Homo sapiens: one gene and its partners. The protein of the gene in region 4 interacts with the protein of the main gene of each other region in a biochemical or structural test. Each region holds a gene or a part of one and is shown on either strand. Other genes may lie near its edges.

Region 1 (7,021 bases), on a different chromosome or scaffold from region 4:
AGGGCGACATGATGGCTGGGCAGAGGAAGCGCAGGAAGAGGGAGGCGCTGATGAGCCGCTCACTGATGTCCGGGCGGCCGCGACTGCTGCACTCCTGCCTCCACGAGGCAAACACCTCTTTCAACTCCCGTGGGAAGACACTGTGTAGGGACAGACAAAGGTGGGCTTGGCTGTCAGGCAGGGGCCCAGGACAGGAGTGCACAGAGCAGGAACCTGCATTCCAACCTTGGCTCTACCCCGCCAGCTGCGTGAGGTCAGCCCCGCTGTCTGAGCTCTGAGGACACAGCCATCTGGGGAGAGCAGTCAATACAGGGTGGCTGGAGCAAGTGCCCAGGCAGGAGGAGGAGCAGGGAGACCCAGGCTCCCATCGGGCAGTGGGTTCTCAGTGAAGGGCCGGGCAGGTGGGATGGGAGGAGGCATGAGGAGCTGGCTCTCCGTCCTAACCGGAATTAACTGCCAAGGGCCAGTGCTGAACCACCTCTCCAGCTTCTGGTCTGGGCCCTCCCCACCTCTCTGCCAGTGTCTACTTCATTTTTCAACCCAAACAGCAGGCATCTGGGTCTAGGGGGAAGTGAGGAAAACAGGAATAGACCACTATTCCTTGGGTTCCCATCACTGGCTTTGAGACTAATTTCCTTTGCTTGAATAATGTCACAGGAATCCAGGATTTCCTAAAAGCTCAGAAAGATCAAGAAGATGGGACTACCCCTGAACACGGTGGGACAACACAGCTCTCCATTCTCTACATGGGGAGGGAAAGGGAGGTAGTGACTGCCCCAGGGTGATGGAGCAAGCCGGCAGAGCTGGCCCTAGACAATGGGGCTCCTGGTTCCACTGGGCATCCTGGCCTGCCATGGTCAGGCCCACCTGGCCAACCCTTAAGTGGGTTTCCTATCTTTTTTCCCTAAAAGATGCATCTCCCAGCCTGGGGCAGGCCAGGCCCCAGTGGTCCGTGAACTCAGTCTACACTTGGCTCTGCCATGAGCTCAGGGTGATCTGACCAAGGCCCTAGCCCTCCTGGAAGGCTTGGGTTTTCTCTCCCCTAAACTGAGAGCAAGGCCTGCCCTGCCAAGCTCACAGAGCCATCGTAAGGCTAAAACCCCAAGGCTACAACAGGCTTGACCAACTTGAAATTTCTTCCCCCACAGGCCCAGCAGCCTGCTCAGCAGGCTCTCCTGCAATGCATGCTGGCTGACCCATCAAGGGCACACCTAGCGGGGAATGAAGGTGAGCCACCTTTAGCCGTGGCTCTCACAGTGCCTGGCACAGAACTGGACAGGGGGCAGGTGTTGAGTGGTGACATCTATCAATGGCCTTGTCCAGAATGGAGAGGTGCCTCTGATAAATGCCAGAAAGAGGAAATGGAAAATCACTGTCCACAAATATGTTTTCCCTGAGTCACATGCCCAGCCCCCCTGGAAGAGGGGGAGGGGGAAAGCACAGCCCAGCTGGGAATGGGAAGTGTGTTCCCAGAGTTCAAGGCCCTACAGTCGCTCTCCTCCACCGGCCCAGGGGTGTGGAAAGCTGCACATTTGTGGCCCATCTTGAGGTGCCCATTTGGCCCAGGCAAGCACCTTGTATAGCCCAGGGGCTAAGGCCCTGGGTGCCAACCCTCCTGGCCTGCCCATTCCCCCTGCCTTTTCTTGTCCTTGGGGAGCAGCAAACACTTCTCTGGCCTTCCTGTGTGCCCAGTCCTGAGGTGGTGGGCTCACCTGCCCCCAGGGTGCCCCAGCATTCACAGGAAATGTTTTAGGCACAGGCACAACCCTATCCTGATGGGATCAGGGCTGCGACAGAGGGTACCAGGTGTGGCCTCGGAGCAGGAAGGGCAGGAGTGTATGCAGGGGAAGGTGCAGGTGAGTGAAAGAGATGAACCTAACAAGGAGTGAGGTAAGGCCGGGGAGAGAGTGGTGTCAGAACAGGCTGTGGACGGAGGCTTGGGTGGGTGGGGGCTGTAAGCCCTGAGCTGGAGGGGGACACAGGTTAAACCTGGGCAGCTCCTCTGGGGTGAATATGAACCCACTGCTTGGGCTGACAGCAAGGCCCTCCCGCACAGTCCTGTGTGCCACCACAGAACGAGGCTATACTCGGCACCAGGCTGGCTGGCCATCACACACATATATCCCAGGAGCAAGCTGGTGGCCGTGAAGTCGGCCTTACCGCAAGTTTCTCCGGGACTGATTCCGGTCCTGCTGAGGGGCCTGTCTAAGCAGCCCACTGCTGCATGCCCTGCTGCTTTCTGGGGCTGGCAGAGTCTGCAGACCCCGTTCTACTTCAAAGTCTAGTCCTTTCTGTTTATTCTCTAGTCCCAGCAAGAGGCCTGCCTGGTGCTCAGGCCCCCAACGTGCCCCTGCTTGGCCCCATCACAAGGCTGTGACATGAGCACCTTAGCTCCCACGGACAGGTGAGGAGCCTCAGGTGAAGCCATCCGCCCACCCCAAGTGGGGGCCCACACAGGGCCTGCCAGTCTCACTCCCGCTGCAGCCCAAGCACCCACAATAGCCCCCGGCACATGAAGGGCGCTCCCTCATCACCAGAGACGGCAGACTGGCGTGTCCAGGTTCTTTCCATCACAAAACCACAGCAACATGCTGAACGCTGCCCCACCTGAGAGCTCAAAAGGGACTAGGCCAGGGGACTGGCAAGTCAGTACAACTCAGGGGCCAGGCAGCATCAGGCACACTGCGGGTGCCAGACACTGAAGGACAGGATGGGGAAGGCGACAGGGTGGGGAGACCTGGGCACCGCACTGACCAGTAGGAGTTGATGATCTTGCAGAAGGCCAGCTCGCAGCACATCTTGAGGTTGCCCTGGTGCTCTGGGAGGTCAGCGGCCGAGCACTTGCTGGGATCCACTTCGCAGTTCTCATCTGACTCATACAGCGCTTTGATGAACTCACCTATGGACAAGTGGGCAGGGAGTGGGGAGTGAGGACCTGGCGGGCCCTGCCCCACCCTCTGCCCTGCTGCTGGCCCACTCCCTACCTAGGGCGTCCTGCAGGTACTTCTGGCCCACTAGCTTGAGGTACTCCTCAATGGCCTTGGTGGCCAGTGTGTTCTCCCGGAAGATGAGGTGCTCGTTGTCCCCGCAGCGGTCCACCTCTGACATCATCAGGTCTGTCAGGAAGTCCTGGGGAGGCAGGAGGTGGAGAGAGCAGGACCTGAGCTGGCCTGGCATGGAGGGCCCTAGGATTCCAGACCTAGCCAGAGAAGTCCTGGCATTTTGAGGCTGTTCCATCACCAAGCTGCGGGGGTCCCGGAGAGGAACAGTGTGCCCACCTTTGGGGGCTGCTGGGGAGTGTGGGCAGGGCAGGGGCCCCCAGCCAGGGTAGGAGCCTAGAACTGGTGACAGTAGAGCCGGGTCTATGGATGGAGGCAGCCTGAATGAGAGCATGCCACGTGGAGCCACAAGCCCCCACCACCACAGAGAATGGACTCATTTCCATGTACAGCCCTGATCAGGCCTGGCCTGGTGACCACAGCAGGACTCGCCTCTCCCCGCACCATCAGTGCCAAAGAGGACAAATGAGGCTGCCCTGTCTCATGGTAAGAATGGCCATCAGTATCCACCTATGACTCTGGTGGGGGCTCCCACACCAGACACAGATGCCTTCTGTGCAGCCCCACTGCCCGGGGAGGTCGTGAGCCACCATGCTCAGGCAGGTGAGAGCAGGAAGTGATGTGCAACTGGCTGGAGAGGGAAGGTGGAGGCGCCACTGCCCACCTGGCAATCCAGGGTAGCAGCCCCAGGCCCATCAGGTCCCACACACAGTGTTGTGGGAAAACCCCAGCACAGGAGCCCGAACCCACACCTTCCCCCTACTCTAGCAACCATGCAGATACTAACACCCTCCCTCAGAAGCCCCCACCTCCTTGTGCTCACAACTAACCTGTGGCTTGGGGGAGGGGAAGAAAATAGGAAAAACTGTCATAGTTTCAAGGGAGGGTGACAGTCAGGGCAGGGGGCCACCTAGCACAGAGCCTGCAAGGTGCCCAGGAGGGGTGGACCCAGGCATCTGTGCTCAAGAAATTCCTCACTCCGACATGCACGACCTTGGGGTCCTTTAAAACAGAACTGAGATCTAGACACAGGAACCCAGGGTGCACAGCAGAGGCACAGAGGGACAGCAGGGGCAAAGGGGAAGCTGTCATTGGCTTCCTGGGGATCATGTGGCCTGAGGACCCCTTCCTGACCAGCAGGCGACCTCCAGGGTCTCATTCTCTGAATACACTAAAGCGGGGGTCAGAGGTGCATCTCCCCCGGGGCTCCTCCAGGGCTCCCGCTCAGGACTGCAGCCTTCCTGAACTCCCGCAATGAGAGCCAGGCCCCAGTGCTGGGATGAGAACTTCCTGAGAGCCAGGACCCAATAAGGGGGAAACCAATGCACACACAGCAGGAAAATGACTTGTCCAAGGCCACACAGCCACCTGGGGCCAGATCTGGTCCAAGTCCCTTGCTTCCCAGACTCCGTTACTCCTCTAGCCGTGGAGACGGAAGAGGGGCTAGTTCCCAAGTATTCCAGGGGTGGGGGCTTAGGTACCTGTCACCCCAGCAGCACAAGTTACTTTCTATGCTTCTATCTACTGCTCCCCAATCCCACTGAGGGCCTTTGGGGTTGGCTGCAGCCCTGACTTCACCTCCCTCCACGAGCACCTGGACATACCTATCATTTCAGGCTGCTTCAGGGAGGAATCCGCTTCCCAGGCCAGCCCCAGCCCAGCCCTGGGAACCAGGTACTGAAACATCAGACACAACTGCAGAAAATAATGCAGCCTCTGCAGCCCCCATCACTCCCTCTCTGGTGCCCATGGGTCCTTGATTCATTCCGTTTCCCAGCATACGTCCCCAGTGTTGACCAGCATGTTAAGGACGGGGCAGCCAGAGCTGGCCCAACGTGCAGCCTAGCCAGCCAAGTCTGAAGGCTGGGGGAGAAGGTGAGGGAGGAGGTAGCTGAGCACTACAGAGGAAAACTGCTCCCCATCGCGGGTCCATGGGGAGGAGGTCCCCGCCCCAGCCCTGCACTTGCAGCATACAGCAAGTGCAAGAGGGAGGGGGGCTGCAGAGGCTGCTGAGGCTTCCAGCCATGGCCTCCCCTTCCAGGGCCTCTAGGAACAGGTGAGAGGGTGAGGGACCTCCACGAGTCTTGTGCCCTGGACTCTGCCCTGGGGTATGGCTCCCAACTGTGCCTCCCCGACCCAGAGCTAAGGGCCTAGGACCTTGACACAGGGTGCCCCTCAGCCACCTGCCACTTGGCTCACAACACGCCACTGTCCAGAGGGCAGAGGCCCAGTCCTTAGCCCAGCACCAGGGTCCATCCACGCTGCAGAGGCCTCAAGTCCAGCCCCTTTTTCCCACCCTCTTTGGCCAGCTTCCTGAATGGCAGGTGGCAAATGTAAAGAGAGAAGGTCGCCTTCGAGGCCCACAGACCATGCTCTACTGCCTTCCTAGGGGCACCCTGGTCCAGGAGCCCATTTGTCCCCAAACCGGGTAGGTGGGGCTGAGGCACGGCTTGCATGGTGGGCTGCTGGGCCCATCTTCGGGAGCGGAAGGTGAAAGGGGTCATGGAGATGGACATTGAGCACCTCTGGCCCTGAACTAGGACTTGCCTGGGTGGGTCTCAGACGATTCCCGCTTCTGTGAGGCTCTGGGGTGGGGCTGGCTAACCCTCGAATAGTACAATTTTGACTGTGTCTACCTGTGTGACAATCTGTGTGTCTGGGTGAGAGTGTGGGGTGAGGTAGAGCTGTGAGGGAGGCTCATCTGTGCATCGTGCTGGGGAGGTCTGCCGAACTCCATACCCCACAGGGGACGTGTGTTTGGCTCACTGCGGCTGGTGGCGTTGTGGGACCTGTGTGCTGGGAGAGCCGTGGCCACCCAGCCTGTTCCCCTGGCGCCTCAGGGGGTCGGTCCTCTGCAGCAGTGGTGGAAGGCACCTCAACCCAAGCCCACTCCCTCACTACCAGCTGCAATCCCATCCACTGGCTCCACACAGGCCTCAGTGATCAGCTCCAGCCACAGAGCAGGAGTACAAAACCCCCAGCCCACGATAGAACTTTTGGGTTTAGGGAGCCCTTCTGGTAGTGACCGGTGCCTCCAAGGCCTCTGTTAGGCCTGAAATGTACGGATGTGAGGAAGGGCAGGTAACCCAGTGCTGCCGCCCAGCCTGTGTCAGGAGCCGAGGGGCCTGCACGCACCTTCACCTTGCCCGTGCTCTGCAGGATGTGCACCAGGGCAGATGCCATCTCCTCCTTGGTCTTGGCACTGAGGATGGGCTCGAGGGCTGCACACAGCCCCAGGTAGTGGTTGGTGATGTGCTCAGCGAACTCTTTGTACATCTCCATGGGCAGGATGGTGATGGTTTGGTAGCGCGCCTTGATGCGGATCATGGGTCCAGGGCCCTTGCCGCCCTTGGGGTTGGGCGTCACCACCGGGTACCACTTCTCCACGAACTGCCGCCCGGCCACCGAGGCAGCAGGTAGGCTCACCAGGCCCAGGTAACTGTTGCGCTCCTTCTTCTTCTTCTTGTCGGTCTCCCGGTACAGGTGGACAGTGACCGTGCGCAGAGGCGGCAAGTTGTGGAACTCGAAGTGCTCGCCCCAGAAAACATTGTCCGTCTTGAGCTTGCCCGTGGTGCGGGCATAGAGCACATCGTCCAGGCACAGCTCGCACAGGTACTTCTTCTTGGCTGGCAGGTCCTTGGCCTCGATCACCCACAGCTTCAGGATGTGCTCCACACGCCGGCTGTTGTCCTGTATGTGCACGGGGGTCCAGGGTGGTCAGCTGGGGGTGCCACGTGCAACCCCCAACCAGCCCAGAGCCTGAGAGAGTCCTCAGACCCAGGAGGAGCTCTGAAGGTGGAGGCGGCAGCGGGCGCCTAGGCCCTAAGTCAGGATGAGGCAGGGCATGATGGACAAGGGCTGGATCTCTGGTCGACCTCACAGAAGCTCACTCACCTTGGGCAAGCAACTTAACTGGAGCCTTGGGTTGCTTGTCTATGAAACGGCACTAAGGTAAAACCCCC
Region 2 (7,506 bases), on a different chromosome or scaffold from region 4:
AGATGCCAGGATTGTGGGATGGGAGGGGGTAGATGGGGAACTGGGCTGCCAGGGTTGGGGGTTGATGAGGCTGGGAGCCTGGATTCCTGCTTCTAGAGGAAGGGGTTGGGGGATGAAATTCTTAGATCCCAAGTGCGAAGAGGATGCTGGTGGCCCAGACTCCTCGGTTCTGGTGGCGGAGGGTGTTAGAGGTCCCAGTTCCTGGGTTGTGGGGGCTGGGGACGGGTGGGCCAACGTCCTGACCTCCTGTGCCTCCTGATGCCTCCGGGTTGAACTCTCACATTGGTCCATGCGCTCCTGGTGCAAGAACCGGCAGCCTTCAGGCACCAGCAGGGCCTCACTCACAAATTCACCAGCTGGGGAAGCACGGGACACCAGGGTGAGATCCTCCTATAGCCACCAACCCCACCCTCCTCAGAATCCAGATATTTTATCCTCAGAGGCTTCTCTGCCCCACTTAGGACACAAGCACCCAGCCCCTTAATGTAGGCCTGAGAGAGGGGCTCAGAACCTTGCCCCTCAGAAACTCCCACCTCAGTTCCCCTCTCCCCGCCTGGGACTCACGCAGGCAGCGGAAGGGCACAACCTGGTGGTGGGGGTGGGCGCAGCTGCCGCTCCGGGAACCCCCGCACCAGCGCTCCATGGGGATGGCCTGCGTAGCCTGCTCCACACGTGCAATCTGCAGCTCCGGGTACATCTGGGGGGATCAGATGGGGGCAATCAGCCCACTGCCCCGCCCCTGCCAGCCACCCCTCTCCAGTAGTCAGGTCCCTTTTCTCTTTCTTTCTCCCTCTTTCTTTCTTTCTTTGAGACGGAGATTTGCTCTTGTCGCCCAGGCTGGAGTGGAATGGTACAATCTCGGCTCACTGCAACCTCCTCCTCCCAGGTTCAAGCGATTCTCCTGTCTCAGCCTCCTGAGTAGCTGGGATTACAGGCACGCACCACCATGCCAGGCTAATTTTTGTATTTTTAGTAGAGACGGAGTTTCGCCGTGTTGGCCAGGCTGGTCTCGAACTTCTGACCTCAGGTGATCCGCCTGCCTCGGCCTCCCCAAGTGCTGCGATTACAGGCGTGAGCCACCGCGCCCGGCCAGGTCCGTTTTCAAGGCTCTAGTATTCATGAGGACATCGCTTCCCTAGGCCCTGCTTCTCCCTAGCACCAGCCTTAGATATCCAAGCTCCTTGTGCTCATTGGCCACGCCCACTAGCAGTTTTCCCTTAAAAGTCCCGTCATCTTTAAGCCCTATCTCTTTTCCTGTGCTGTTTCTTTCTGAAGGTCCCTCTAAGCCCACCTCTCTGGTCACCCCTCCCCGCAGTCAGATTCGTCTCCCCAAAGGTCTCACCCTCCTTTAGGCCCCGCCTTTTCCTCTATTCCGCCTCTCCAAAACTCTCCCTTCCCGTTATAAATTTGTCTTTTCATGGCCACGCCCCCCCAGCTCTCCGCGCTCTCATTGGGCTCCACCCCTTTCCCCATCTTGCTGGTCCTTAAGGTCTCTTTCTGTCTTAGCCCCGCCTATCCTTTCGCCACTCCCCCCTACACCTCTACTCTTTACAAAGACCACCAGATTCCTAAATTCCACTTCCTCTCTGGCTATCTCGCGGCTCTCCCCTTTTCCTGACTTAGTATCTCAAAACAGGTCCCCTGCCCCTAGCATAGTTGCGCCTCTTTATTGGCCACGCCCCCCAGCCTCCACGCCTTAGATCGCGCAGCACCCTGGACCACGCCTTTTTCAAGTCTAGCTTTCTATGGGCGGCCCCGCCTCTCCCGTTCGGCCCCGCCCACCTGTCTGCAGTACTCCAGCACGCGCTGCGGGTCCCGGAGACAGCGTCGAGAGCGCTGTGGGTCTGGTTCCCAGCGGCCGGTGCGCAGGTCCCGGTGAAGGGTTAGGCGCCCGCATAGTCCAGCCACCTGGGCCGACCCCGGGGCCTGGATGGAAGTGGAAAGGACAGTGAGGGCTCGGGGGGCGTTGGCATGAGGGTCCCCTGGTTCTTTGCTCCCTAGGACCGAGACCCCCAGCACCAGCCCCCTCCCCCAAGCACCGCACACCGCCTCCATGGAGGCACCGTTCCCTGGGAAACAGCTCCCGTAGGGCGGGGGCGCCCCAGCGCTCCCGTTGCTATGGCGACCTGGGTCCCCCGGGATTCTTTCTGCCTTGTTGCCGCGGAGACAGACTCCGCCCCCACCCCAGCGCAGCCGCTCTGGAGCCCGAAGGGGTTAAACCTGAATCGCGGAGGAGGAGGCCAGAACCCAGGAGTTCTGGCCCCTCCTCCCTCCATCCCTTGCTCAGGCTCCCGTTGCAGGATGCAAAGCTGACAAGGCCTGGCTTCAGGGGCCTACAGTCCTGGACACCAGGTCCTTGAGGACTGGAGAGCTACATCTGGTTGGGGTGGGTGGTGACTGAAGGACTGGACTCCTGGGTCCTGGGAGGCTGCAAGGGCCTCCATATGGGTCCAGAGAATACAAGGGGTCTGGATTATTGGATCTAAATGCCTCGCTGCTTGGTGGGTCCTATGTCCAGGCGGGAGGGGGTTGGGGCCGAGTCACCTGGGTCTGGAGAGGGGGCTGGACTTCTGGGACCAGGGGCTCTGAATAGACCAGTTCCTATGCTCGAGATGGGAGGGGGCTGGGACGTCGCATGATGGGGGAGCTGGGGCCTGGAACCCTGGGTTCATAAATGTGATTGGGGGCGCCTGGGGGCTGACCACCTGGCTGGAAAGACCGCGCTTTCTGCCCTGGACATGTCCGCGCCGGCGTCCAGAGACCCGGTCCCGCCCCTTCCCCCATCCCCCAGGACCCGGCCCGGCCTCACCTCGGCCGCGCCGGGGCTCCCACCGGCCAGGCTCCCGATGGCGGGCTGCGCGCGCAGAAGCAGCAGCAATAGTGGCAGCAGCAGCGGCAGCGGCGGCTGGCCCGGGCGGCGACTTAGACCGCGAGCAGCGGGGCTGGCGGGCCCCATGTCCCGGCCCTTGCGCCCTCACGTCCCCTGCACTCCCGCCCGGCCCGGCCCCAGCGGTGACAGGAGCTCCCAGCGCCACCGCCGCCACCTCCTCCTCCCGCCGCCCCCGGGCTGCGCCGGCGCCGCCAGCCCCGCCCCGCGCCGGCCCCGCCTTCCTGGTCAGGACAATAGCGTGGCGGCTTCGCGCAGAGTGGAGCAGCTCGGGAACCCCGGGCGGGAGCCTGCGCCAGGCCCCCGCCCCTCGAGATTCCAGGCGTCCCGCCCCATGAAGGGCCCAGCCAGGAGTCCGGCTATGGGCTCCGCCCGTTGTGGATTTTGAGTCCTCCCGCAGGACTCTCACCCTCTTTAGACCCAGACACTCACAGTTTTGTCCTTTTCCAAGGATGCAAGCATCAGAGACCCCCATCCCCTAGTACATTCCTCTGTTGAGGGCTCAGGAATACAGGCCTCCAAAATGTCCCCAGTCAAGAAGGCAGCAGTTGAGACCTAGTCCCTTCCTCTTTCAGATCCAGAAGTCTGGGCACCTTCTCTCTCAGGACCAGAGACCAAGCCCCCAGCCCATTCTCCTTCAGACCCAGGAGTTCACTCTTCTTGCTCTGCTTCCCAAGGGTCCCAGGGGCCTGGACCTTTAACTCCTAGCTCAAGGATCCATGAACCAAAGCCCCCAGGACCTTTCTTTAAGGATCATCCAAGCAGGCACCAGCACCATGCCCACTGTGGATGCAGCACCTCAGGATTAGGGTCTGGATCTCCACGCTTGCTGTAAGGACCAGGGGATTGCCATTTTCCTACCCATAGTCTCCCCTTCCCTGCTCCACTTCAGGGCTCACTTGTTTGTCTCCTCTAATGAGAGTTAGAATTCAGTCTTCCCCAGGACCCCTGGGGCAGCCCTGTCACTTGTGTGCAACTGTGTGGACATCTATGCGTGTGTCTGTGCATACATGCCTATGTGTGTGTCTTTTCTGTTTGCAACTCATGTGTGTGTGTGCGTGTGTGTGTGTGTGTGTGTGTGTGTGAAGATGTATATTAAAAGAGCCCATGGCTGGGCACAGTGGCTCATGCCTGTAATCCCAGCACATTGGGAGGCCTAGGTGGGCGGATCACTTGAGGTCAGGAGTTTGAGACCAGCCTGGCCAACATGGTGAAACCCTGTCTACAAACAAATACAAAAATTAGCTGGGTGTGGTGGCATGCACCTGTAGTCCCAGCTACTTGGGAGGCTGAGGTGGAAGGATGGCTTGAGCCCAGGATGCAGAGGTAGCAGTGGGCTGAGATCATGCCACTGCACTCCAATGTGGGCCATAGAGCCAGATCTTGTCTCAAGAAAAAAAAAAAAAGAGCCTAGAGTGCTTTGCAGGTAGCAAGAGGCTGAGAGGTGGCTCACAGTTTTACTCCTACAGCCACCTCATAGGCTAGGGTAGAGGAGGGACCTTGGGACAGGTCTAAGGGACCCCTTCCTTGGTGGAGAGTGATAATGCCAGTAGACTCCCTAAGACACACTTGCCTCTTTGACTTTTTTTTATTATTAAACATAAATATTTTTATCCCAATATTTTGCCCCAACAGTGGTAATTCTCACTGTATCCCCACTCCTTGGGTCCAAGTCTTTCTGAGTCTTTAAGGAAAGTAAAATCAAGATGGTGGCCATCTTGGGTTCCTAGGGAGTATATGGCCATCTTGGCTGCATTTCCATTGGCCGAGCAAAGTTCCCCTCAGGGAGAGCCAGGGTGGGGCCTGGTATGCTCTTCATCTTCATCTATCCTATGCTACCTTTCCTCTCAATGCAGATGGTCATCTTGAAATATCTTCTTTCAGTGGCTAGAAACAACTTCCATCCCGGCCCCAAACTCCCAACACCCACTGCCCTGTCCCCATCTCTCCTCAAAGGGCCTACCTGCCATCTTGAATCTCTTTTACACCGGGGAATAGGTGGGCATATTGGGTGGCCATGTTGCTCCCACTTGGGGCATCTCCTTTGGCTGAGCTGACTGTATACAAATGCTCCTGACAAATGTAATGATCTTTCCCTCCCCTTGTGTTCAGTTTTGGAGGAGTAAGGTCGCCAACTTGTCCTGGCTCCTCAGAAATCAGAACAATCCATTATGGCAAGTTGGAGATCCCAGGACTCTTCCATTGGAAAGATGTCACACGTGAGTCTGGAGACGCGGGTGGCTAGGTGTGGGGAAGGCAGCATATGGGAAGGGGGGAGTCCCGGGGGCCAGATCTGGGGGCCCAAAGGATGTGGGTTTGATGTAGCTGGTGAAAGCTCGAGGGTGGGGTGTGGTGAGATAGCCTGCCCTGGCTCTGTAAAGTCTGCAGGGGGGGACCATGCCCAGGTGTGGGTTGAAGTCATAGAAGGTAGGGGTCCCTGGGGGCCCAAGGGGGGAGGGTGGTGGCAGGAAGAGACCTCCTCCAGGGGCTTCGCCAAGGCTCAGGCTCACACTGACTCCTCGGACCTTGTAGTAACCGTTGGTTGGGTCCTGAGGGGACAAATGGGACTCAGTAAAGTCTGTGAGCGTGCAGGGGGGATGAGGGTCACTGATGGAGAGACACACTGAAATAGACCAGACCTTGAGAGAGACAAAAAGAGACAGGAGTGGGCAGAGACACAGAGACACACATGGACTGGGAGAGAGAGAAAGTGAGACAGAGGAACAGTGATAAGAGGCAAATGGATAGGACATAGGCAGAGAAAGGTAGAGACGGAGGGATATAGGCCTGCTGAGGGGTGTCGGTGTGGAAGGTGCAGAGGGAACAGGAGAGAGACACTCACCTGCCCAACAGCCTCTAGGCTTTGATTCAGTGTCACACCCTGTGTTGCTGCTACAAGGCATGTCACTAGGATAGAACTGGACCCTGTCCTCACAGAATCCCACACCAAAGGAAAAATGACAGATCATGAGACAGTACCCAGAGGGGTCAGGGCTGTGCCTGGGAAAGGCATAGGCAATGACAGGGGCTGTGATGGTAGAGCCCTCAGCATAGTGGGTGGGATAAGGAAGCCCAGATCAGAGTGGTCATGGCTGTGATGGGTGGAACACAGGCAAAATGATCGAGCTGTCATGACGGAAGCATGGGCTTCCTAGAACAAGAAATGTCTGAGCTGAGACTGGAGGACTAAAGGAAGGAATTAGGTAGACATGGGAAGGAAGGTAGGAGTGTTTCAGGCCAAGAGAATGGCATGTCGGCTGGGCACAGTGGCTCACGCCTGTAATCCCAGCACTTTGGGAGGCTGGGGCGAGCGGATCACTTGAGGTCAGGAGTTCCAGATCAGCCTGGCCAACATGGTGAAACTCCATCTCTACTAAAAATACAAGAAAAATTAGCCAGCTATTAGGGAGCCTGAGGCAGGAGAATGGCTTGAACCCAGGAGGCAGAGGTTGCAGTGAGCTGAGATTGCACCACTGCACTCCAGCCTGGGCAACAGAATGAGACTCCGTCTCAAAAAAAAAAAAAAAAAAAAGAAGAGAGAGAATGGCATGTGCTAGGTACGCAGGAGAGAGAGAGAGAGAGAAGTGCTCTGGCCTGGGGATGGCCTGGAGTCAATGTGGCTGTCCTGAGGTAGGACCCCAGAGGAAGAACCAGTCTGGGGAGATGTGGGGCCAGTGTAGGACCTGGTGGCTGAAAGGGGGCTTGACCGTGATGAGGAGAGCACAGGCAGGGTGAGCCCTGGTCTGGGGCTCCAGATGGAGGCTAGGGCTGGGACAGATGTGTGGGAAGAGTCTGCAGACAGGCAAACTGAGGCTGGGAGCTGAGTGAGATGGCCCAGGGGGCAGGAGGAGTGGGGTGGGGAGCTGAGTCCCAACTCTGAGGACAACAGAAGGAAAAAGGAGGGGACAGGCGTGGGAGAGAGACGGAAACACAATGAAGGGAGCCCCGCCTCTCCCAACAGTGAAGGGAGCCCCACCCCTCTCAACACTCACCTTGGTCTCCAGAGTCCCTTCCTCCTCCAGAACCAGATCACTGTGGTCAGTGTGCACAATGGGGCCCTGGGGTAGGGAACTTAGTGAGAGGGAATAGTCAGAGGATCCCCCCGCCCCAATGCCAGACCCCAAGGACCTTCAGCCAGCCAGTGGAGGCCAGGCAGGAGGGAGTAAGAGCACCCAAGAGCTGGGGACTGCACTCAGGACAATAAAAGGGCTGTAAGAAGCCAGCACAGTGGCTCATGCATGTAATCCCAGCACTTTGGGAGGCCGCAGCAGGAGTATCACTTGAGGCCAGAAGTTTGAGACCAGCCTGGCTAACATGCCGAAACTCTGTCTCTACTAAAAATGCAAAAAATAGGCAGGCATGGTGGCAGGCACCTGTAATTTCAGCTACTCAGGAGGCTAAGGAACGAGAATCACTTGAACTGGGAGGTGGAGGGTGCAGTGAGTCTGGATTGCACCACTGCATTCCAGCTTGGACGACAGAGCAAGACTCTATCTCAAAAACAACAACAACAACAACAACAACAACAAAAACGGGCTGTGGGGACATACTGGGCCTAGGGAATAATTGGGTCAGGGGCATGGACTTGGGTGACATTTGGGTGTGGGGTCACTGTTAAG
Region 3 (7,021 bases), on a different chromosome or scaffold from region 4:
CTCCGGGTCCCCACTGCTGGGTGCGTGGCGGATGCTGGGCCTGCTGGACTTGGCACCGAGGCTGTCTGTTGGGCACAGCTCCCACAGTTCATCTCCGAGGTGGGGGTGACCCAGGCCTGGGACTGGGGGATGGGTGGAGGCAAGGCTGTGGGCCCAAAGCCCTGGTCCCCAGGGCCGCCTGCCATGGGCCTCGGTGTTGTGACAGCTCCTTGTGTCCTGGGTGGTGCTGTGGGGAGCTATGGAGTTGGGGAGGCTCTGCCTGGCCTGGGCTGTGGGGGGAGTTCCCACTCCGCCCTCCCTGGCTGTGCCACTTGGGGTCTGTGACTCAGCCTCTCTGTGCCCTGAGTGCCTCCCTGGTTTTGGGAGGGTCCAGGCAGTTCACCTACTGCACTCATAGCCATGGCCTAGCAGGGACACTTGAGCCTGTGTGTCCTGAACCGGGGGAGGGGCACAGAGAGATCCCAGGACTCGGCACCACCCAGGGGACAGGCTGGTGGAGAGCCCCTGGCTCTGGGGTCAGGGGTTGGGAGGCCACAGACCCCCAAGGCTGAGGGCCCTGACCTGGGGCGTGCACAGGGGGCTCTGAGGGCACAGGATGGCTCTGCACCGCCTGTCCTGGGCCAGCTACCCCTGCCAGCTTCCTGCTCCGCCTTGGGAGAATGGGGTGCATTCGGGACCACGCCACGTCTAGGGCAGCTGGCTGTGGCCTCTGGGAGTCTGGAGGGTTCTCTGCATCCTGTGTGGCCATGCTGGCTCCCAGGGCGCTGCCTCTGAGTGGATTCCTCCCCGGGGCGGGTCTGTGGGGGCAGCACACAGGTTAGCCAGGCCTCACAGGGAATCCCAAGGTGGGGGCACAGTGCCGGCAGGGGCGCCCCTGGCAGCTGCCGTGAGTTTCAGCGGAGGCTGCTACAGAGGCGCGGGGACCCCGGGTTGTGGGTACGCCCCCAATGCCTGGCCAGCCTCCAGCACCCTCCCCCATCTGGCTGGGGTGGGGACGGCAGGGCTCTGCCTGGGACCTGGGTAGCTGATCCCTGGAGCCCCAGGCAGACCCCACCCTTCCCTCTGTGCTGTTTGGGTCCTGCTCCCTTTCTCCTGGCCCAGCCAGGCTTGGGTCTGCACCCTGCCACTGGGGGCAGGGGAGGACTTGTTACACCCTGTTGGGCTGAAGAGGGCGGAGTGAGTAGGGCCTCTGGGTCCTGGCTGGACATCTGTGAGGGGGCAGGGGGCAGGGACATCCCAGGCAGCCTGGGGTCTTCGTGAGGCCCTGGCTGGGTGGGCCATGCGGGCTTGGGCCACTCTGGATGGTGGGAGGGGGCAGGGCCCTCTTCCGGTGGAGCCAGGCGGGTGCTGTACTGGGGTGCTGGGTGGCCGAGTCTCCCTCCAGTGAGTCAGAGGGTGCTGGGTGGCCGAGTCTCCCTCCGGTGAGTCAGAGGGTGCTGGGTGACTGAGTGTCTCCCTCAGGTGAGTCAGAGGGTGCTGGGGTTGGGTGTGGCAGGGGAGAAGCTGCCGGCCAGGCCACCTGGGGCCGTGTGTCAGGGACTGAGGTGGGGACCCTGCCAGGGGCTCTGCTGTGGTCAGGTCCATTAGAGACAAGGGCTCACTGTGGGCCCTGGCCCCCTGGCGGCAGCTAGTGGTGGCCTCGGTGTCCGTGGGGCCCGCCTCACCCTGGGTTGCTCCAGCCTTTCAGGTGTGACAGCCTCTCACTGTGGCGGCCTCAGCCTGGCATGGGGTCATGGTCTTACCTGGGAAGGCTCCTGTGTGGGGGCAGCAGACGTGGAGGGGTCTGAGAAGTGACCTTCTCTGCTCTTTGGGGGCGTCTACCTCATGGCCTGGCCCTGGGTGGCCTGGGGAGGCAGCTGCAGGACCCCAGAGGGCTAGGTAGGGGTCCCTGCTCCCACCTGGGCTGGCCCTGCCTGCTGTCCACTCTGCCCTGAGGCTTGGGGCCTCTTCCCAGCAAGTGGGTGGGCCAGGGCTTGGGTGAGAGTGTGGGTTTGCCACTTTGCCGGGGGCCTCCTGCTACCTACTGCTTCGGAGTCTGGCTGAGTCAAGGTGCCCCGGGGTCAGGGGACCTGGAGCGGCCAGTCGGGGTGGCTCTGTAGCTCGCAGTGGGACTAGCAGCCACAAGGCCGCTTCCTGCCAGGTGTGCGGCCAGGCCAAGCCCCGTCTCCGGGCTCCTATTTCTCCACTGGGCCCAAGTCCCGGGCGTGGAAAATGCTGCTGGGCAGGGCAGGGTGCCACGAGGCGGCGTCCAGATCCTACCCAGCCTGCTGCCTGGGCCCTCAGAGGTCACAGTGTGAGTGTCGACCACAGCCCTGCCTGCCTTGCTCCTTGGCCTGGGGACCTGCCCCTGCCCAGCCATCCCCTCTGTGCCGTGTGGGTTGCCACCCTGCCCTCTGAACTCTGAGCTCGGGTCACCCGGCCTCCTCCTGGTTCGTGTCCCCTGACCCTCTGCGGCCTGCCTGGGTGCCCTCTGCCCCGTTCCCAAGCCTATCTGACCTGGGGGTGGACTGGTGAGGCACCTGGCCAGCTTGCTCTCCTGGGGGCCCTGCCGGCTCCGCATCCCCTGCTGCCCCTCTAGGTCCTGAGGTGCAGGGAGGTTTGGTGAGTGGAGGTCTTTGTCTCCCTGGCTAGGTGGACAGGACAGGAGGGTGGTGGGCGGCCTCTGGGGACCTGTGGGCCCTCCCAGCCCACCTACGTCCGTCCGTCGGGTCTGAGAGTCCTTGTAGGTGGACTGTGAGCCTGACTAGGGGTGCAGGGCAGGGGTCAGGCAAAGCCCTGCCCTCACAGAGCCTGACCCTGGGCAGGCAGGCACAGGGCCTGGGACCTGAGGCTGCTCCTGAGACGCCAGGAGGGTGGAGTAGGGCCATAGGGCATGGCTGGCATGATGGAGAGGAGGCTGCTGGGGGATTTGGGCTCCTGGTTGGGAATGACAGGTCTGAGTGCAGGGGTGGGTGCAGGTGGCCTGATGCCCTGGCTGTTGAGGGGTGGGCGGCTGGTCTGGAGCTGGCTGGGAGGTGGAGCGGTGGACCTGAGGTCTGGGGCAAGGGACAGGGAATAGCCTGGGGAGCCTTGGGGCCCGGTAGGTGCAGCTGCTGCTGCTGAGGAGGCTGGGGCCTGGCCCTGAGGAGTCCCAGTGTGGGGGAAGCCCTGGGGGGGGGGGGCTCCAAGCCCCAGGAACAGATGAGGTGGGGGTGGTTGGAGACAGCGTCTGGGGCCACCACATACATGAACCGAGGGCAGCTGGGCACGGGGGCTTTCCCAAGGAGGCCTCACCCTAGCTGTCCTCCTACCTGGGGGCTGGGGACCAACGCTGCAGGGGACTGAGAGCCTTTGGCTGAGCTGCCCCTGTGAGGATGTCCACAGCCACTGTCCCCATGCTGGGGGGGTGGGGGCCCAGGATGTGACGGAGAGGAAGGACGGTTCCCGAGAGGAGAGTGCGTTAGCAGGGGTGTCCGCAGAGTGACTGGCCCCATGCTGGGGGGGTGGGGGCCCAGGATGTGACGGAGAGGAAGGACGGTTCCCAAGAGGAGAATGCGCTAGCAGGGGTGTCCACAGAGTGACATTGTGTGGGCAGGAGGAGCGCCTGCTCTCCAGGCCTCACCTCTAGAACCGCAGGGTTGGGCCCCCCAGGTGGGGCCTCACGGCAGCATATGCCCACAGGGTGGTGAAGGAGGAGATCTTTGATGACAATGCCAAGCTTCCCTGCTTCAACGGCCGCGTGGTCTCCTGGGTGAGCCCCTGTGTCTTGGCCCCGAAGGCTCGCCTGGGGAGCATTCCAGGGTGGGGCTCTTCCTGGGGGAGGCGGTGGGTGTGGGGAGGCCCTGGCAGGCTGGGTGCGGATAGGGCAGCTTGCTGGCCCCCTGTTCCCTGGGTGCCCTGAGGAGGCGTCCTGAAGGCGGGTGGGCTCCCCTGAGCATGCCTGCTCCCTCCACAGCTGGTCCTGGCTGAGGGTGCTCACTCGGATGCGGGGTCCCAGGGCACGGACAGCCACACAGACCTGCCCCCGCCTCTTGAGCGGACAGGCGGCATCGGGGACTCCCGGCCCCCCTCCTTCCAGTAAGGACACCGTGGGCGCTGGGCCCTGCTACCCCAAGCCTGTCATGGGGGTTGCTGGCCAACAGGGGAGGGAGGCCTGCCTGGGCCAGTAGGCGGGCGTGGCACCTGCTGGGGCTGGGGTCCCACAGGCGAGGGGAGGCTGGGCTGGGCGGCATCTGAGGGGCTGGGGCCACGGCCTCCCCACCCACCCTGCTCTTGTTGCACAGCCCAAATGTGGCCAGCAGCCGTGACGGGATGGACAACGAGACAGGCACGGAGTCCATGGTCAGTCACCGGCGGGAGCGTGCCCGACGCCGGAACCGCGAGGAGGGTACAGTGGTCATGTCTGCCCAGCTGTGGACCCCCAGCCTCCCTGGGACCCCCATGAGCCATGTTCCTACTACAGCAGTTCCTGTCCCCCAGCCAGTGGCGGTGCTTGGGTGGAGGCACAGGCCCAGCGAGCCTACAGTTGAGCTGCCAGCTCCCAGACCCACAGGCATGCAGCACTGCCCAGGCAGCCCCAAACCCATGACCTCTGGGAGACCCTGCAGTCAGTTCCCAACCTGCTGCCCCCACAGCCGCCCGGACCAATGGGCACCCAAGGGGAGACCGACGGCGGGATGTGGGGCTGCCCCCAGACAGCGCGTCCACCGCCCTCAGCAGCGAGCTTGAGTCCAGCAGCTTTGTGGACTCGGACGAGGATGGCAGCACGAGCAGGTGTGTGGGAGTGTCTGTGGGCGTGTATGCCTGTGTGCCCACTTGCAAATGTCTGTACATGATGTGCATGTGTCTGCATGAGGTGTTTTCACATTGCACGTGTGTGCGTGTGTGTGCATGTGTGTGCCTGCAAATGTCTGTGTACATGATGCACGTGTGCTTGTGCACGTGTTCCACATGAGGTGTTTTCACTGTGCACGTGTGTGCGCGCCTGTGTGTGTGCCCGCGTGCAAACGTGTACATGATGCACGTGTCTGCTTGTGCATGTGTGTCTGTGTGAGGCGTTTTCACATTGCGGATGTGTCTGTGCATGTACCTGTGTGCAAACGTTTATGTACATGATGCGCATGTCTGTGTGTGCATGTATGTGTGTGTGAGGTGCGTTTTCACAGTGTGCACGTGAGCGTTTTCACAATGCACGCGTGTGCGCAGGTGTGTGCATGTGTGCGTGTGCGTGTGTGCAGGTGTGCGTGTGCAGATGTGCGTGTGTGCAGGTGTGCTTGTACAGGTGTATGTGAAGGTGTGCGTGCAGGTGTGCATGTGCAGGCGTGCGTGTGCAGGTGTGTGCAGGTGTGCCTGTGTGCAGGGGTGCGTGTGTGCAGGTGTGCATGTGTGTGCAGGGGTGCGTGTGTGCAGGGGTGCATTGTGCAGGGGTGCGTGTGCAGGTGAGTATGCAGGTGTGCATGTGTGCCTGTGCAGGTGTGTAGTGTGCAGGGGTGCGTGTGTGCAGGTGTGCATGCGTGTGCAGGTGTGCGTGTGTTCATGCGTGCGTGTGCAGGGGTGTGCATGTGTGCCTGTGCGCAGGGGTGCATGTGTGCAGGGTTGCGTGTGTGCAGGTGTGTGTGCAGGTGTGTGCATGTGTGCCTTGTGCAGGGGTGCGTGTGTGCAGGTGTGCATGTGTGTGCAGGTGTGCATGTGTGCAGGTGTGTCAGTAGTGGATCTGGCTACATGTGTCTGTGCCCAGTTTGCCTGTCTCTGGGATTTTCGTGTGTGCTCATATGCATATCACGTGTGCAGGGCCTGGGGCGTGGACGTCAGGCACTGAGCCTGCTTTGGAACAAGCCTGGCCTAGACCCCCGATTCCCACTCAGTATTGGGGGAGCGGGTTCCCACCCCCCTACCCATGTCTCCAGCTCCTCTGAGCTCTGACAGTCTGTTCCCAGGCTCAGCAGCTCCACGGAGCAGAGCACCTCATCCAGACTCATCCGGAAGCACAAACGCCGGCGGAGGAAGCAGCGCCTTCGGCAGGCGGACCGGGTAGGCAGCCGGGTGGAGCAGGGCGGGGCTGGGGAGGCGAAGTCAGTGTCGGGCAGCCCCGTGCCTTTTACACACGCCCCCTCTCCTCCATAGGCCTCCTCCTTCAGCAGCATAACCGACTCCACCATGTCCCTCAACATCGTCACTGTCACGCTCAACATGGGTGAGGCCTCGGGGCGAGGGTTGGGGGCAGGGGCAGGGGCTTGGCCGCGGCTCATGGCTCTTCCTGCAGAAAGACATCACTTTCTGGGCATCAGCATCGTGGGGCAGAGCAACGACCGTGGAGACGGCGGCATCTACATTGGCTCCATCATGAAGGGCGGGGCTGTGGCCGCTGACGGCCGCATCGAGCCCGGCGACATGTTGCTGCAGGTGTGTCTGTGGGGGCTGCGGGGTGACATGTAGCTGCGGGTGGGTCCGTGGGGACTTTGGGGTGACGTGCGGCTGCGGGTGGGTCTGTAGGGGCTGCTGGGGGACATGCGGCTGCGGGTGGGTCTGCGGGGGCTGCTGGGGGACATGCGGCTGTGGGTGGGTCTGCGGGGGCGGTGGACTGAGCTGCACATCCTGCCTGCACCACCCTAATCCCCACCCCTGCAGGTGAATGACGTGAACTTTGAGAACATGAGCAATGACGATGCCGTGCGGGTGCTGCGGGAGATCGTTTCCCAGACGGGGTGAGGGCTGGGGGCGCTGGAGCGGGAGGGGCCAGGCAGGGAGGTGGGACCATGGGGGCCTTGCTGTGTGACCACCGTTCCTGCAGGCCCATCAGCCTCACTGTGGCCAAGTGCTGGGACCCAACGCCCCGAAGCTACTTCACCGTCCCACGGGGTGAGTGGCCCTCGGGGCACACGGGGCGGGATGGGGAGGGGGCGCCTACCTAGCCTGAAGGCCTCTCTCCTCTGTGCCCTGCACCCTGCCCTCCCACCCTGTCCATCTGTCCGCCTGTCATCGCCACGTGGCGGCCACCCAGCTGACCCGGTGCGGCCCATCGACCCCGCCGCCTGGCTGTCCC
Region 4 (6,896 bases):
ACAGAATCTCTTGAACCCAGGAGGCAGAGGCTGCAGTGGGTCAAGTTCATGCCAGTGTACTCCAGCATGGGCAACAGAGGGAGACTCTGTCTCAAACAAAACAAAACAAAACAAAACAAAAATCTGTTTCACCTAAATATGATTTTGGCCAACCTTTGTGCAATTCAGCGGCACAGCTTCAACTTTGGAATTACATAGCAGTGCCAGGGAGAATTTTAAAATACCACATCCTGTTACTCAGGTGTTTCATATTGCCAATCTGGTTCCCATTCTGGTTCTGTCTAAAGGGTAAAAAACCTTATGTGTTTGGTTAGTTACCTAAACCTTCCTGGCCAGTAAGCTTTCGAATCTTTCCAGCTGGGGAGGTATGTTCTGATGAGCATTAGGACAACTTCAAACCCCAGGAGGGCTCACTCTCAGCAGCTTTCCCAAGCATTTCAGCATCTTGGCTTTGTCTTTAAGAAGAGCAATAATTAAATCCTCAGGTCAAAAGAATGAGGAAGAGAAACACGCAGAGCCTTCAAAATTATCCAGATGAAATATCAGTGGTAGCAAACTTAGGTTTATGGACATATGAGGGTAGAGTTAGAAATGAAGCAGCATAAGAGCCTATGTCACAGCAAAGCCTCCTGCTTGGCCAGGAGCACTCAGCAAGGAAGATATCTTCCTGCTCCCTTAACCTTCAGATAATCGAGGCCTGGTTGAGCAGGCCAGTAAATATCATCCCCAAACAGCTGGTCAGCAGCTGCCAGAGGTCCCTGTACTACCTTCATGCCAACAAGTGCCTTAAAAGCCGTACCCTTCAACCCAAACAAGGCCAGTGAAATCCATTCAACCTTTGGAGAAAGACAACAAACAGGCCTAATGCACAGGAATTTGGACTTCCAGTTTAATCTGAAACTATAAAAGTCTTTAGCAGAAACACAAACTCTGGAGTTTGCCCTTCACAAATTAGACAAGGTTTGTAACAAGTGCTTTCTTCCCTCACTTACATCCTCAGGTAAAGATCAACCATCAAGATCAAAGATCCCCAGAATGGCAAATACATACGTGTATGGGCTCAAAGTTGGAAGACATTCCTCTACCATCTACTTATTCTGGTTATACATTAAAGCATAGGAGGGCATAGCTGAAAAATGACTGGTTTCTAGGTCAGTCATTTGGATGAGAAGGGATCCTTCCAGCTGGGAGTGGGAAAAGAAGGGGGAAGTTATTCACCAACAACAGGAAAAAGAATTTAGTTGGCCTTAGGAGGAAACTGACTAAGGATTTGGAAGAAGTGGTCTGTCCCAGAAATCCACATTGGCAAAGACCACTAGGTCTTCTTCATGCTTTCTCTAGAAGACTTTCCCATTGTACTCAAATACTCCCGAATTCTCAAGGCAATAAACTTTCTTACAGTGTCACTGAGGGCCATCTCCCTTCCAAGAGGGGAGACACAGAACCTGGAGTGGGCGGGGCACCTGGCTCAGAGAAAAGTAGCCTCCCAAAGTCTGGCTGCTGGGGTAAGAAGCATGGTGACAAGCCATTTGGTAGCTGCAAGCTCCCTCCTCCCCAACAGCCAGTAGGTGCTTTTGTGTGAGAAGCCAACCTCAAGACTGTAAGGACAATCAAGTATACATCTCATCAAAGCCATTCCAAGAGGCTTATCAGACATCTCAAAGGCATTTTTTGTAGATGCCTGCTTTCCACTCCCATTACTTCTGTTTGCATTAGTTATATCTTACCTCCTTCTCCCCCATGCCCCTGCTTTGCCTGACTAAGGCCAGAAATTTTTTCATGAAGTCACTTTATAGAGCAATAGCAACATTTACTATTCGTGAAGTCGCCCCTCCATAATTTTTAAGTCTTTCCATGTGTCTGGAAGCTTGTTTCTGCTCTTCTCGGTTTACAGAGCGGCTCTCTTCCTTCCAAACAAAAACTAAAAAGAAAGGGGAAAAGGTGGGGGGTGGTTGGGGTGGAGATAACACCCAGATTCCTTAAGTGTTTTTAATCCAGTTGAATTTCCCTTTGGACTCAGCTCCCTGCTGAAACTGTCTGCGGACCAGAATTCCAGGCTCAGAATTAAGTCAAGAGGGAAAGACAGCAGAAACAAATAACAGAGTCAGCTCTATGCTATGAAAACCGCTATGTTGACTGAGGCTCCACGGTTTTAACCCATTCATTTTTCCCCCCTTTTTTAGAATTCTTACTTAATCTTTTTAACCAGCTTACAACAGGCAGGCAAGCACCATATAAACCATGCTCCCTGCGCCGGGGGATATAAAACAAGTTTCTTAAGTCCCTTGGGTAGATACTTCCTTAGGAATGCCGGTGTAAGACAAAAGTTCACATTTTAATGCCATATGTTGTCAGTCACCAGGAAAAAGCTCCTTATGGGCACAAGCCAGGTCCCCAGCCTTTGTCACACAGCAAAAATAAACACCCTTCGAGGAGTTAATTAGGCGGTCAGCAGCCACCTCAGTGTCCTAGGAGGGCTGCCCGCAGACCTTTTACACACACACACACACACACACACACACACACACACACACACACACACACACGACACAAAAGGAGGCGTTTGTTAAATGTCACAAGCTGGGCATCTGGAGTCGGATTCGAAAGGTAAATACATTCCGCGGAAGCATTCCTCAGATGTCAGGCCACAAAACTGCTGGTTTCCCCAAGCACAGGGTCTCATTTCTAAGATTCCCCACAGCCCAAGGTCTGTACTCAAAGAAGGGTAGCGGGGGGCGGGGGGGTGAGAGAGGGGGAGCAAAGGAGAGAAGGAGATCTTTAAAAAAAAAATGGAGCCAGAGGGAAGAAGGGTTTCGAAGCTACTCACCGGCTAGCTATTGCCTCCGTGAAGCGAGCATGACTTCCCCGCGCCCGGAGCCTCCAGGCTACAGCGCAGCGGATGCGGCGGGCCTCGCTTAAATAGCCGCCGGCCGGGAGCTTCGGAGCCGCGCGGCCACTCCCGGCGAGAGATATGGTTCTAATCAGATGCTGGCAGCTGAGGACTCCCCAGGAATGTGCCAGGATGTTTTTGCTGCCTGGGCTTGGTAACTCCCCCTCAACGTGTCTGCAGAGTCTTCCAAACTTAACTGTTTATTAACTCGCGCTGCAGCGGCGCAGAGGACCCCGCTCCCCTGAGCTCCGCGAGCCCCACCAGCTGGGGGCGATCGCAGGGACCCAGCGACGGGAGGGGAAATGTGTTCGGGGAGAAGTCAAAAGCCCCAGACCGACGCGGGCGGGGGGCGGGTGCAAATAAGGACAGGAAAGGGAAGCTCTGGAGGAAAGGGGTGGGATCCACCGAGCTTCGTTTCACAGATCCGTTCCCTGGATTGCCACTGCGAGTGATGTGGCACACGGAGTCATCCTAACCAACCCGTTGGGGCCCTTTGAACAAAGGACTGCCTTTACTCCTGACTTTTCTGACAAGGGACAACGGTTCCTGCGCAGATCTGCAGTTTCTAAAGTTGATCGCGCGATTGGATTTGCTCCCCTTAGAAGAAATTAGTGTCTCCCTCATTGCAGATGCAAATGCGCTTAAGTTAGTGGGAAATCTATGTGTGCATATGTGAAACATACTGTATTTACCTATGAAATATAATCATATATATGGATATAAAAATAATATTCTCTCTGAAATCGATATGAGCAAAACATGTTCACGTCTATGTAGCCTATCAAATAAGTTATAATTCTGATACAATCAGAGATTCTATACAGGCTTCCCTTACAGTGTATATACACCTATATGTAGACACATAACATGACTTTATCTGCATGAATTTCCATAGCACTTCCTATAACTCTAGGAAAAACATGAACTGCAAGAAATAAAATATTTAAAAATGTTAACGTAGAGTGCTGAGCGGTAGAAGGTACTCCGCAGCAAATCCTAATGAGTGTTAACAAGCTGAGAATTCATTTTCTCCATATTTTAAAATCAAGAATTATTGTAAAACATCCACAGAAGCTCTGTTGCTTTTTGGAGAATTCTGAAATTACTCTTGTGAAAGACGTGTCTCTTTTCCCTTTTTTTAAGAAAAAAATTTAATTGTTTAAAGTCAGAGGCAGCACGTAGTAAATGTGAAAATGCTAAATTGTATCTCGGATGGGAGGGGGTTATTGATTTTATCGAGTAAGCAACACAGTGGATTTGCATTTTACCTCTGGAAACTGAGGGTTCAAATAGGGCTCGTGGGACATCAAGGATATATTTTGTGGTCCGTGCCTAGCCTCGACTGCAAAGCCACTGTGTAATTTGGGGTAGCTCAATGTGAGTGGCAATGTCTGCTCTCAAGTAGGTCAGGCTTGAAACAACCGTTGTTCGGGGAGACTGAGGGGTGCAGAGCAGCACAGCTGGCCCAGAATTCTACTTCCCCAGCCTCTACTATTTCTCATCCCCTGACACACCTAGGGGTGTGGAGGCAGGGAGGGCCATGCTGGCAGTTTTCAATATTCCTCAGAGGTAATTTGCTATTTTAAAAAATGACTTTGTGTGAATGACAGGAAGTATACAAATTTTAGTCCTAGGATAGTATTCTATTTATAACATTTATGCAGAGAAATGTAATTCTAGTACATTTTAGAACACAAGGCTTTGTTTCTAAAATCTAGAAGTCCAGTTTCATTTCTATTGGCTAGGTAGCTGGAAAAAGGGCTGCTGACTTCAGGCAAATAGAGACTTTGATAATTAGAAAGACATGGGTGTCTCTTTTAACCTCAATATGTAATATTTTCTAGACTAAGAAGTGCTCACTCAATTCTATTTTTTTTTTTTTTGAAAGACTCTTACCAAGAAATACTAACTTATGTTTGCTCTACCCCACCAAATGGAAGGGATTTGTCTAAGAAGCCAGAGGAAGAAAATGATTTCATCTGCTATGAGTTGTAGTTTCAAGAGAAGACTTTGATGAAAACAGTTCATTTAAGAGCAGTGGGCTCACACTTACAACTTAAAATAGACACCTCTTATTTTGCACAGAAATCTGAAGAGTCGACAGTGGAGAATTCTGGTTTGAACTGTATTTTTATATCTCTAGGGCACCGATATTGCTTCTGGCAGTAATTCAATGTCCTGCTCACATTAAGAAAAAAAAAGAAAAGAAATTTAACTCTTTTTATCCCTCGTGAAACATTGTCTCTGTCTCATCTAAGTTGTTCACTTTTCAACAAGTCTAAAATGAACATCTTTCCCTCTGGAGAATCACGCCAAAGCCCACCCAGATATTTACCCTGCCTAAATAATGGTCTTTTCTTATCACCACTGAAATTTATGTTTAGAAAATTAAGGGGAGGAAAAGTCAGTTCAATGTTTGAAAAACAATAGTCTTTGAATGGCAATTGTCCGTTGCAGAAAACCTGCCTGTGAGAGAGAAGGAAAAAATAAAATAAAACAAATGACTGTGCTCCCAGCCTAGGAAAGGGGTAGTTAATCCCGTGATGGCTTGCTGAAGAATGCATGGTTTATTATTAAAGTAATCTCTTAAGATTTTCCTGGAATGTGCTTCCACAGCAACTCTGCCTGTTCGACCTATCCTATGCATGTGTCTTTTCTTCCATAATTAAGCTGTTTTCCTCTGTTAGCTCACAGACCTAATCCTTTATCCTTTCTCTCCTCCTTCTCCATCACTTCTTCTATCCCCCTCTCTACTGCTCTTGTCTTCCTTAAACTGCCCCTTTTGAAGCCTGTCATTTCTCCTGAATTGTAAATGGCACTTTGGAACTGGCTGTAAGGTAAACTGCCTGTGTGCCTTTGATGCCTTGCTGGACACTTAGAGATGTTAAAATCAAACAAGGATTTGTTGAAGTGGACCTAGTAAGGTCACATCTCTCTCTCTCTCCTTTTTTTTTTTTCCTTCTCCATGTCATTAAAAAAACAATGAAGAGAATGGCTATTGTTCCCAGAAAATGTTCTTTGACCTTGACCAGTCCTGCATATTTAACATTACAGAAAAACTGACCCTACCAGATTTGGTGGCTGGCAAGTCAAAACAAATACTGGAGGTTTTTTTTCATATCTCTGTCTATCCATCTACCTGTCCATCTTCTGATCTAAAATATTTGGAAGATAGTTTCATAGAAGGCAGCCTGTTTGTGTTTTGTTTTCTTGCTTATACCCCTATAGCATCTCAGAACTAATATGTATTTTTCTGTTTTGTGCAATTTTAATGAAACTCAGGTGGTAGACTACTAGGGTACTTGGAAAAATTGGTACTTGTAAAATGAAGAACATTTAAAATTCAATAATATAAATGTATATAACTAATTACACCTCACTTATCAATATAAATTTTTATAATGAGAAATTGTGAAAGGCAAGTAAATACCCATAAAAATTACCATTCAAATAAATACTGTCTTACTTGGAAAGAAACCTAGCAGGAGTTATCAAAAATGAAAATACATAAAACCCTGCAGGAATTACTAATATTAATTGTTATTGTAGCAAACACATACACTTCTCTATCCTAGGAGTAAGAATCTATCCACTAGAAATAAAGCACATGTATAATATGCAAGGATTTTTTTTTTTTTATTTTTCTGAGATGGAGTCTTGCTCTGTGGCCCAGGCTAGAGTGCAGTGGCAAGATCTCGGCTCAGTGCAACCTCCGCCTCCCGGGTTCAAGCAATTCTCTGCCTCAGCCTCCCGAGTAGCTGGGATTACAGGTGCCCACCACCATGCCCAGTTAATTTTTGTATTTGTATTTTTAGTAGAGACGGGGTTTCACCATCTTAGCCAGGCTGGTCTCATGATCCACCCGCCTCGGCCTCCCAAATTGCCGGGATTACAGGCATGAGCCACCACTCCCTGCCCCCAAGGTTGTTAATTGTATCATTTATAGCAGCAGGAAGCTAGGACAAAATATGCCTGTCAATGGAGAATGACTGAGTATGTTATGACT

Evidence for each region.
Region 1: the proteins of DAB2 (region 4) and DAB2IP form a complex in vitro, tested with the Homo sapiens proteins (one study listed by BioGRID).
Region 2: the proteins of DAB2 (region 4) and APLP1 form a complex in vitro, tested with the Homo sapiens proteins (one study listed by BioGRID).
Region 3: the proteins of DAB2 (region 4) and DVL1 form a complex in vitro, tested with the Homo sapiens proteins (one study listed by BioGRID).

What each region holds. Positions count from the first base shown.
Region 1 is NC_000009.12:121,759,613-121,766,633, reverse strand, and holds part of DAB2IP (disabled homolog 2-interacting protein), read right to left. Parts: intron 6,750-7,021; coding exon 6,195-6,749; intron 3,130-6,194; coding exon 2,985-3,129; intron 2,900-2,984; coding exon 2,755-2,899; intron 141-2,754; coding exon 1-140. UniProt on the Homo sapiens protein: Functions as a scaffold protein implicated in the regulation of a large spectrum of both general and specialized signaling pathways.
Region 2 is NC_000019.10:35,864,087-35,871,592, reverse strand, and holds the start of APLP1 (amyloid beta precursor like protein 1 isoform 1 precursor), read right to left. Parts: upstream 3,020-7,506; 5' UTR 2,957-3,019; coding exon 2,810-2,956; intron 2,502-2,809; exon of another isoform or gene 2,236-2,501; intron 1,927-2,235; coding exon 1,783-1,926; intron 698-1,782; coding exon 565-697; intron 357-564; coding exon 244-356; intron 1-243. Other genes in the region: KIRREL2 (kin of IRRE-like protein 2 isoform c precursor), read right to left, coding at 5,101-5,436, 6,880-6,945. UniProt on the Homo sapiens protein: May play a role in postsynaptic function. The C-terminal gamma-secretase processed fragment, ALID1, activates transcription activation through APBB1 (Fe65) binding. Couples to JIP signal transduction through C-terminal binding.
Region 3 is NC_000001.11:1,339,398-1,346,418, reverse strand, and holds part of DVL1 (segment polarity protein dishevelled homolog DVL-1), read left to right. Parts: intron 1-3,660; coding exon 3,661-3,730; intron 3,731-3,934; coding exon 3,935-4,056; intron 4,057-4,262; coding exon 4,263-4,366; intron 4,367-4,613; coding exon 4,614-4,752; intron 4,753-5,915; coding exon 5,916-6,009; intron 6,010-6,102; coding exon 6,103-6,172; intron 6,173-6,240; exon of another isoform or gene 6,241-6,241; coding exon 6,242-6,381; intron 6,382-6,606; coding exon 6,607-6,683; intron 6,684-6,710; exon of another isoform or gene 6,711-6,769; coding exon 6,770-6,837; intron 6,838-6,979; coding exon 6,980-7,021. UniProt on the Homo sapiens protein: Participates in Wnt signaling by binding to the cytoplasmic C-terminus of frizzled family members and transducing the Wnt signal to down-stream effectors. Plays a role both in canonical and non-canonical Wnt signaling.
Region 4 is NC_000005.10:39,421,977-39,428,872, forward strand, and holds the start of DAB2 (disabled homolog 2), read right to left. Parts: upstream 3,005-6,896; 5' UTR 2,828-3,004; intron 1-2,827. UniProt on the Homo sapiens protein: Adapter protein that functions as a clathrin-associated sorting protein (CLASP) required for clathrin-mediated endocytosis of selected cargo proteins.